2 separate regions of the Homo sapiens genome follow, and region 2 is linked to region 1. The links come from fine-mapping of genetic effects on plasma protein levels. Region 1 holds a variant in brackets. A gene starts in the other region. All regions are shown on their reverse strands.

Region 1 (5,379 bases):
GGGCTGTAGTAGCGGGCACAATACTGGGTGTGCACTCATTGTGGGACTTCGCTTTGCTCGGAGACCTTCAAACCTTGTCTCTTCACATCACCATATCCTTTGCAACCATTCCCCAGCACAGCCTGGACTGTGACAGCCCCACAGGGTGGCTGGACCCAGAGGAGCAGTGGGCTTCACAGTAAGTAGTCTGGCTCTCAGGAATTGCCACACTTAGGGTAAGGGGGAGTGTGACATGCCAAGAGAGCACCGCATGGAACAAAGGGAACCAGAGTGCAAGCTTTTTTATGTCTCAGAAATTCCTGCTTGTGCCTTTTTCAGCAAAGGCAGTTCTGGGCTCAGTGGGGGAAGACTTGAGGTTCCTTCCCAGATGTCAAACAGCCCCAGTGCTCCAAAAAGGACTTGGGGAAGGAGACTTCTCCTTCCTCCCACCCACTGCTGCAAACATCTGGGGTTTCTCCCATGGGAGTTCCATGCAGGTACTATAGACAATCTTACTGGAGCATTTTGGGGTGACTGTGTCCCCATGGGAGGTGCACCCTCCAGGGTCAGGCTTGTGTGAGAGGTGGAGTCCCTCTGTCTCTCCACATGGAATTTCAGTGTTCCTATAGATGGACAGAGGTGACTGTCTGATCTGAATATCTGGAACACTGGGTCAGGGGCTTCGTGAGGAGATAGATAGCTTTTCTGTTGGCCTGGTAATGGAGCTGAGGTGGCTCCCTTTCTTTTCACTGTAAAAACCTCAGTGCATTTCACCAGAAGCTCCCCCGGACACCATCGACATGGATGGGACTTTTGTCCCCAATTGGGGTATTGCGTATACACACCTGCTTCAGCCACAGGTAGTTCTTATCTGTGAGTGTCTCTTATTGGCTTGAAAGCTGAACTGTTCAACCCAGTGAAAAAATTACTGGGGAAGAAAAAGTGTGCACCACTGGGGAATGAGAGAAGCTTCACCACTGGGGAATGAGATGAGCTTCATGAGACCTCTGTCATCCTGGCCCCATGTAAGACAGTGAACCTGCTCAGACACCTAGCACATTGCTACTGCAAGTGGCATCTGAGAAAGCCATCATACAAAGATTCTCTGTTACCAAGGAACTCATATAGTCTTTGCCACTGAAAGCACTCAGAGCCAAAGCTAGGTGGTCATAAACTATACATATATTATAGTCAAAACCTCAAGGGGGAAAAAAACTCAAGTCCCATCAGAAATAAATTTGAAAACAATATGAAGAAATAGTCTATTCAGATATGAAGGGACCAGAAAGATAATTCTAGCAATAGGAAAAAACAGAGTTTTACAACACCCCCAAAGTATCACACTAACTCTCCAGCAATAATCCAAACTAAAATGAAAACTTTGAAATACCAGATAAATAATTCAAAATATTGATTACAAAGCTGCTTAATGAGATCCAATAGAAAGTTGAAAACCAACATAAATAAATAAAAAAAATTAAGGACATGAATAAAAATTTTTCTAAAGAAAGTATATTCTTAAAAAGACCAGACAGAACTTCTGGAAATGAAAGACTCATTCAGATAATTATAAAATGCAGTGGAAACTTTTACCACTAAACTAGACCAAGGAGAAGAAAGAATTCTAGAGCTCCAAGAGGAGCGTTTTGAATTAACCCCCAAACCAACAAAAATTAAAAAAAAAAATAAAAGAAATGAACACAGTCTCCAAGAAATATAGGATAATATGAAACATCCAATCCTAAGAATCAAAAGTATTCCTGAAAGAGAAAAAGAAAAAAACACAAGAACTTGGAAGATATATTTGAAGGAATAATTGAGGAAAACTTCCCTGGTCTTGCCAGAGATTTAGACATCCAGATACAAAAGACTCAAAGAATTCCTGGAATAGTAATTGCAAAAAGAACATCACCAAGGCATACAGTCATTAGGCTACCTAAAGTCAATGGAAGGGTAAGAATTCTAAGAAAAGTGAGAAAAAAATCAAATAACTTATAAAGGAAAACCTGTCTGACTAACAGCAGACTTCTCGGCCAAAACTTTATAAACCAGAAGGGACTGTGGTTTTATCTTTAGTTTCCTTAAGCAGAATAACTGTCAGCCAAAAATGTTGTATCCTGAAG[G/T]CTGCATTTCTTACATGAAGGAAGAATAGTCTTTCCCAGATCACCAAACACTGGAGGAATTTGTCACCACTAGACTGGCACTAGAAAAAAATGCTAAAAGGAGTTCTAAATATTGAAATGAAAGGTTGACACTCACCAGTATGAAAACACTGAAAACTGTAAAACTCAAAGGGTTTAAAAACAGTAACACAATGGAGAATACAAAGCAACTAGGTAACAATCAACATAATGACTGGAACAGTATCTTACATATCAGTATTAACTTTGAATGTAAGTAGCCTAAATGCCTAACTGAAAAAATATAGATTGGTAGAATGGATTGAAAAACACAATCCAGGCTAGGCACTGTGGCTGCAATCCCAACAATTTGGGAAGCCGATGTGGGAGAATTGCTTGGGGCCAGGTCTTATTGCCAAGACAAACCTAGGCAACATTACAAGGCCTGTTTATACAAAAAATAAAGCAAATACTAGCTGGGCATGGTAGTGTGGGTCTGTAGTCCCAGCTACACAGGAGGCTGGAATTGGAGGATCACTGGAACCCAGGAGTTTGAGATTATAATGAGCTATGATTGTGCTACTGCACTCCAGCTTGAACAACAAAGTGAGACCTTATCTCAGAACCAAAAAAACAAAATCCACAATCCAAATATCTGCTGCCTTTAAGAGACTCACTTAACTCTTAAATATTTTTATAGACTGAAAACAAAGGGGTAGAGAAAAATATTCCACACAAATGGAAACCAAAAGCAAGCATAAGTAGCTATTCTTATATCATATAAAACAGACTTTAAATCAACAACAGTAAACAAAGATTTAAAAATTATAATGATAAATAGATGAATTAAACAAAAAGATATAACAATCCTAAATATATTTGCATCTAACACTGGAGCTCCCAGATTTATAGAACAGATAATACTAGGCCGAAAAAGAGAGGTAGACAGCAATACAGTAATAGTGTGGGACTTCAATACTCCACTGACAGCACTAGACAGATTATTGAGGAAGAAATTCTACAAAGAAGCACTGGACTTAAACTTGACTCTAGAACAAATGGCCCTAACAGACATTTACAGAAATTTCTATCCTTAAACTGCAGAATATACATTCTTATTCTTATTACATGGAACATTTTCTGAGATAGACTGTATGATAGGCCACAAAACAAGTGTAATAAATTTTTAAAAATTGAAATTATATCAAATATCTTCTCAGACCACAATGCAATAAAGCTAGAAATCAATTCTAAAAGGAACTCTCAAAACTCTACAAATACATGGAAAGTAAACAACCTGCTCCTGAACGATCTTTGGATCAATGATGAAATCAAAATGGAAACTAAAAAATTTTTCAAAATAAATAATAACCAGTGACACAAGTTATCAAAATATCTGGAACACAGCAGGAGTGCTATGTGGGGAGTTTATAGTGCTAAATGCTTACATCAAAAAGGCCAAACAATCACGAATTGACAACCCAACATCACACCTCACAGAACTAAAAATACAAGAACAAACCAAACCCAAAGCTAGCAGAAGAAAAGAAATAACAAAGCTCAGAGCAAAACTAAATGAAACTGAAACCAAAAAATCACAATACAAAGACTCAATGAAACAAAATTTGATTATTTGAAAAGATAAACAGAATTGATAGGCCAATAGCTAAATTAACCAAAAAAGAGAGAGAGGATTCAAGTAAACTCAGTCAGAAATAAAAAGAAGACATTATCACTGATAACACAAAAATACAAAAGATCATCCAAGACTACTATGAATACCTCTATGCACACAAACTAGAAAATCTTGAAGAGATGAATAAATTCCTGGAAACATACAATCCCCCAAGCTTGAATCAGGAAGAAAAGCAATCCTGGACAGACCAATGACAAGTAGTGAGATTGAATCCATAATAAAAAAATCTCCCCCTCCACACCCCCAGAAAGCTCAAGACTGGAGAGATTCACAGCTGAATTCTACTTGATGTTCAAATAACTGATACCAATCCTACTGAAAGTATTCAAAAAGATTGAGAAGGAGAGAATCCTCCCTAACTCATTCTATGAAACAAGTATCATCCTCATACCAAAGCCCAGAAAGGACATAACAATAACAAAAACTACAGATCAATATCACTAATGAACATAAATGCAAAAATCCTCAATAATTACTAGCAAACTGAATCCAATAGTACATCAAAAAGATACTTCACCACGATCAAGTGGGTTTCATCCTAGGAATTCAGGGATGGTACAACATATACAAGTCAATAAATGTGATTCACCATATAAACAGAATTAAAAACAAAAATTATTATTTCAGTAGAAGCAGAAAAAGCATTTGATAAAACCTAGCATCCCTTCATGATAAAACTTCTCAGCAAACAAGGCACAGAAGGAATATACATCAAACTAATGAAAGCCACATATGAGAAACCCACAACCAGCATCATACTAAATGGGGAAAAGTTGAAAGCATTTCTTCTCAGAACAGGAACAAAAAAAGGATGCTCATTTTCAACAATTCTATTCAACATGGCACTGAAAGTGCTAGCCAGAACAATAGGGAAAGAGGAAGAAATTAGGGGCATCTAAATTTGCAAAGAGGTAATCAAACTATCTCTGGTGATGATATAATCTGATACCTAGAAAACTCTAAACACTCCTCCAACAAAATTCCTAGATCTGGTAGATGAATTCAGTAAAGTCTCAGGTTACAAAATCAATGTATGCAAATCAACAGCACTGCTATACACCAATAACAATCAAGCTGATAAGCAAATCAAGAACTTAATTCATTTTACAATAGCTGAAAAAAAATACCTAAGAATCTACTTAACCAAGAAGGTGAAAGATCTCTACAAGAAAAAGTTAAAAGCATGGAGAAAATAAATCATAGATGACACAAACAAATGGAAAAACATTTCACACTCATGAAATGGAAGAATCAATAGTGTAGAAATGATCAGACTGCCCAAAGCAGTGTAGAGATTTAATGCAATTCTCTTCAAAATAACAATGTCTTTTTTCACAGATAAAACAATCTCTAAAGTTCATATGGAACCAAAGAAGAGCCTGAACAGCCAAAACAATCCTAAGCAAAAGGAGTAAATCTGGAGGCATCACATTACCTGACTTCAAATTATATTACAAGACTACAGTAAACAAAACAGCATGGCACTGGTATAAAAGTACCAGTGGGTACATAGACCAATGGGACAGAATAGAGACCCCAGAAATAAAGCCAAATACCTACAATCAACTGATCTTTGACAAAACA
Region 2 (5,315 bases), not on the chromosome of region 1:
AGATAATAAACAAAGGAGTAAAACACTCTTGAACGACTGAGCAACCAGATACAACAAGAGAGAATGCTGATGTGGCTGGGAGGGAAGTGTCTATCTTAGAAGGTGTGGTCAGGGAAGGCTTCAATGAGGTGGTGACATTTGAGTGAGACCTGACAGCTAAGAAGGAGTTGCCCTGTGAAAAGCAGGGAAAGGAACACTGTGGGCAGAGAGCCTGGCCAGAAGAGAGGACCTGTGGGGCCCAAGCTTGCTAAGTTTGCAGAACCATGAGAAGAAATCTGGCTAGAACCTAGGGAATGAAGGGCAGAGGTAAGGGACCAGATGGTGCAAAGCTTTGTGAGTCATGGGAGGGAATGTGAATTTTTGTTTTACTGTCATGGCAAGCTATTGAAAGGTTTTATTTAAGGGAGTGATTTCTATTTTAAAAAGATTGCTACATATATACAATGGAGTACTATTCAGCCATAAAAAGAATGAGATCCTGTCATTTGCAACAACATGGATGGAACTGGATATCATTATGTCAAGTGAAATAAGCCAGGTATGGAAAGACGAATGTCACATGTTCTTATTTATTTGTGGGATCTAAAAATCAAAATAATTGAACTTATGGACATAGAGAGTAGAAGGATGGTTACCAGAGGCCAGGAAGGGTAGTGGAGGGTTGCAGGGAGGGTGGGGATGGTTAATGGGTCCAAAAAAAACAGAAAGAATGAATAAGACATAGTATTTGATAGCACAACAGGGTGACTATAGTCAATAAGTTAATTGTACATTTAAAAATAACTAAAAGAATGTAATTGGATGGTTTGTAACACAAAGGATAAACACTTGAGGGGATGGATATCCAATTCTACGTGATGTGATCATTATGCATTGCATGCCTGTATCAAACATCTCATGTACCCCCTAAATACAAACACCCACTATGTACCCACAAAAATTTTAAAAAGAGAAGGCTCTCTTAAAAAAAGATTGCTCTCACCTGAGTGGATAATGGGTTGCAAGGGAAAGGAAAGAAGGAAACCAGCCAAGAAGCACCGTCGTTCTTCACGTGAGAAGTGATGGTCTTGTGGACTCAGGAGTATCTGTGGAAGTGGGGTGAAGTGGGTGGCTCCAGGGGGTGTTCGAAAGTGGGATGGACCCCCTTTGCTGATGGATGGGAGGTGAGGGGCGAGGAGATGGATGAACTGGAGATGACTTGTGGGGTTCTGACTTAAGCAGCCATGTGGATGCGGATACATTCACTCTAACAGGGATGAAAGGAGAACACAGAGGCATGGAGGACATCCAGACTTCTGTTTTGGCCTGGTCACAGATCTGACGTGCCCGTGGGGCATTGAGGAGATGTAAAGTATGAAGCTGGAGGTACAGTCAGAAGTCATTGGAATTTCTGGGCTGGAAATGTACCTGGAGGATCTCAGCATAGGACTGGACTTGGGCACCTGGGGAAAGGGTTTTGGGGGAGAGAAGAGGGATAGGTCTGAGCCCTAAGAAGCACTGGAATGTCAGCAGGAATGATGGGGGGAGCAGGAAAGCCAGGAGGGTTGGAGCCACGGGAGCCAAAAGAAACTGCTCAGAGGCCACACTGGGGAGGATCGAGGGTACCCACTGGATCTGGTGACTTGGAGGAGGCTGCTGATGGTGACAAGTCATTTCAGTTAGTGAGGATGAAAGGCAGATTGGAGTGGGTTGAAGAATGAGTTGGAGGTGAGGAGGCAAAAGTGACATTTAGGGACAACTCCTTGGAGAGATCTTGCTGTCACACTGGGCAGATAAATGGGGAAGTGCTGCTTACTTGGGTTTCTATGAACATAAGAAACAGTCTCTTCATCATTTCTAAACCTCTCTCCCACTCTGATGCACCCACCCACAGCATTCCATGATAAAATAAACCGTGGATGATGTGCAGTCCCCAACATAGTAGCTGTGACTCCATTCCTTTTTCTCCCTTTTGAGAAAGTTTCTAGGAATGCAAATCAGGCAGAGTAATGTTGGGAAAACCACAGATCTGCTGACTTCCACACATTCAACTATTATATGTAACCAAATTATTTGTAGCGCAACTTATTATTGATCACACCATACATTATTGTTGGCATGCTGGCTGAGATGTGTTGTTGTTCCAGACATGGTTGGGTGGCATTCATTCATTAAATCATTCATTCATTTATCAAATTTTTTTGAGCACTAACAATGTGTCAACTCTGGGCACTGGGAGAAGTGGTGAACAAGACAAAGATAGCCTCTGCCCTCAGGAGCTCTAGCCAGGTGGGGAGGCAGACATAGAGTAAGTGATATCAGTTGAGCTTACAGCCAGAGAAGCACTGTGTTCTCAAAGACAGCATCACTGCAGGTGCTGGCCTGGTCCACAGGTGTAGCAAGAGTCTCTGAAGAAGTGAGGATGAATAAGCAGAGAGCAGAATTAATGAGACTTGTGCTGGGACTGGGTATGGACAGCAGCCCAGGCAGAAGTGAATACCCAGGAGTGGAGGGAGCCCATTTCCACTGGGGTCAGGGCCAGCCCGTCCAGAAGGTCAGAGGAGGAGAGAGTGGGGTGAGAGGCGGGGTCCAGATGTGCGGGGCCTGGGGGCTCCAGCCAGGAGATTGGTCTTTATCAGGAAAGCATTGTGAAGAATTTTGTGTTGAGGGGAGAGGGGTGATGGGATGGTCAGACTTGTTCTGAAAGAGCGCTCAGGTGTCTGGGGAATGGGGTGTAGTTGTACAGAGAAAGGTGACAGGCCAGTATCACTTGTATACAGGCAGGGGAAGACATTAAGTCCCTTCCAGCCCTATTTCACCAAACATTGCTGGTATTTGGAAACGGGGTGGGGGATGGGGCAGGACCAGACTTCTGCTTCTCAGTGTTCTGTCCCTGTAGCCTGATCTGTTTTTCCTCTCTCCCCTCCCTCCCATCTAGGGGAACTCAACAGGTTAGTGCTGGGGCCGGTTCTCAAGGGGCAGGACAGTGGTAAGCATGGCATAGGGCATGGGAGTGCAGAGATGCAGGTGGGTGCATGACTTGGGATGGGCAGTGCAGATATTCACTTATCCAGGGAATGGCAGGACGGTGGTTATCAAACTTTGCCATGCATAAAAAACGCCTCGGGAGCTCATTAAAAGTGCAGACTTGGAAGCTTTCCTAAGGAATGCTGACTCAGCAAGTGGGGCGGTGGGGCAGGAATCATTTTTAGGAAGTTCGCTTCTCTCTCCACCCAGGTGATTTTGATCTAGATAACCCGACGGCCTTCCTTTTGAGAATGCCTCCATGCTGGCCTGCGTCTTGGCCTCATATCCTCAGTCCCCTCTTCTGTCTCGCACCAGCCTGGGCCTGAAAGCTGATTTTAGCCCTGCATTAAGATGTGAATGACCCAGGACATAGGCGTGGGCAAGGACTTCATGTCCAAAACACCAAAAGCAATGGCAACAAAAGCCAAAATTGACAAATGGGATCTAATTAAACTAAAGAGCTTCTGCACAGCAAAAGAAACTACCATCAGAGTGAACAGGCAACCTACAACATGGGAGAAAATTTTCGCAACCTACTCATCTGACAAAGGGCTAATATCCAGAATCTACAATGAACTCAAACAAATTTACAAGAAAAAAACAAACAACCCCATCAAAAAGTGGGCGAAGGACATGAACAGACACTTCTCAAAAGAAGACATTTATGCAGCCAAAAAATACATGAAAAAATGCTCATCATCACTGGCCATCAGAGCAATGCAAATCAAAACCACTATGAGATATCATCTCACACCAGTTAGAATGGCAATCATTAAAAAGTCAGGAAACAACAGGTGCTGGAGAGGATGTGGAGAAATAGGAACACTTTTACACTGTTGGTGGGACTGTAAACTAGTTCAACCATTGTGGAAGTCAGTGTGGCGATTCCTCAGGGATCTAGAACTAGAAATACCATTTGACCCAGCCATCCCATTACTGGGTATATACCCAAAGGACTATAAATCATGCTGCTATAAAGCCACATGCACACGTATGTGTATTGCGGCATTATTCACAATAGCAAAGACTTGGAACCAACCCAAATGTCCATCAATGATAGACTGGATTAAGAAAATGTGGCACATATACACCATGGAATACTATGCAGCCATAAAAAAGGATGAGTTCATGTCCTTTGTAGGGACGTGGATGAAATTGGAAACCATCATTCTCAGTAAACTATCGCAAGAACAAAAAACCAAACACCGCATATTCTCACTCATAGGTGGGAATTGAACAATGAGATCACATGGACACAGGAAGGGGAATATCACACTCTGGGGACTGTGGTGGGGTGGGGGGAGTGGGGAGGGATAGCATTGGGAGATATACCTAATGCTAGATGACGAGTTAGTGGGTGCAGCGCACCAGCATGGCACATGTATACATATGTAACTAACCTGCACAATGTGCACATGTACCCTAAAACTTAAAGTATAATTAAAAAAAAAAATAGAAGTAAATTAAAAAAAAAAAAAAAAAAAAAAAAGATGTGAATGACCACGTTCCGGGCTGGGGCGGCCGGGCTGTCGGGCAGGCAGCGCGCGGCCACCAGGGGGCGCCAGAGCCTTGGCTCGCGCGCTCGGCCTCCTCCGCCCGCGGACGCCGCGCCCGAGCCAGCGAGCGAGCAGAGCACATCGCTGCGGGCTCACAAAGCGGCCAGACGCTCGGCGGCGGCGTGTGGCAGGAGCGCAGGGGCGCGAGCCGGCGATCAGCCTTCCCGGCGACCGTGCCGCGGGAGCTCGAGCAACTCGGACTAGGGGACCCGGGCCGGCCCCCAAGGTACGTGCCCAGAGGAACCCCGCGCCCCAACTTGGAGTAGTTGGGACCTCCCCGCGGCCGCCTAGGGGGCTGGCAGGGTCAGGGCCTGGGGTTACCTCCGCGCGCCTTTCTTACCCCCGAGACCTCAGGGCGCTCAAGGGAGACCTTTCCCTTAGCTGTCGCCGGGGACCCCCAGCTGCTGGCAGCCCCCACCCCGCTTGCCGGAGCTCGGGTGCTGCTGGAGCCCTGTTCTCCCCTCTCCTGCCCCAAAGCCGTGTGCACCGCACCGTCTGTGGGAGTGCGGCGTGCGGACCCGGGCTCCCCGCTTCTGGGGAGGGGTACCAAGCCCCTGATAGGAGGGCGGCATCTGTGGGGCACTCGGAGAATAGACGAGACGGGTCCCCTGTAGTTGGACGGCAGCCTCGGATTCGTGACGCAGCCTCCTCGTTCGTAGATGAGTCCCCCATTCGTGAGAGGGGTCCCTGGGTCTAGAGGCGCGACAGGCGCCCCAGGTGCGCGAGCGCTGCCCGTGCCCGCCGCGGGGTCCC

Which allele goes with the higher level. Alleles are on the strand shown, and positions count from the first base shown. The strength of an association depends on the size of the effect and on how common the allele is.
For the plasma level of the protein whose gene starts at base 4,641 in region 2, allele G in region 1 goes with a higher level than allele T (weak association).

The links. PIP is the posterior inclusion probability: the model's chance that the variant is causal. Protein levels are from antibody-based Olink assays in UK Biobank. Linkage for the fine-mapping came from a reference panel and not from the study's own genotypes, which makes the PIPs less certain.
Region 2: SPOCK1 starts here. The variant in region 1 is fine-mapped to the plasma level of the SPOCK1 protein (UK Biobank, PIP 0.98).

What each region holds. Positions count from the first base shown.
Region 1 is chr2:67,537,932-67,543,310 of GRCh38, reverse strand. LOC124907804 (a long non-coding RNA gene) reads left to right here. Exons shown (of 2, transcript XR_007086623.1): 1 at 1-178. Among named protein-coding and RNA genes, the nearest start is that of LINC02831, 24 kb to the left of the region's middle. The variant G/T (reference allele first, on the strand shown) is at 2,103.
Region 2 is chr5:137,498,652-137,503,966 of GRCh38, reverse strand. It overlaps SPOCK1 (SPARC (osteonectin), cwcv and kazal like domains proteoglycan 1), which reads left to right and starts at 4,641. Exons shown (of 11, transcript NM_004598.4): 1 at 4,641-4,788. RefSeq lists a silencer at 4,471-4,690.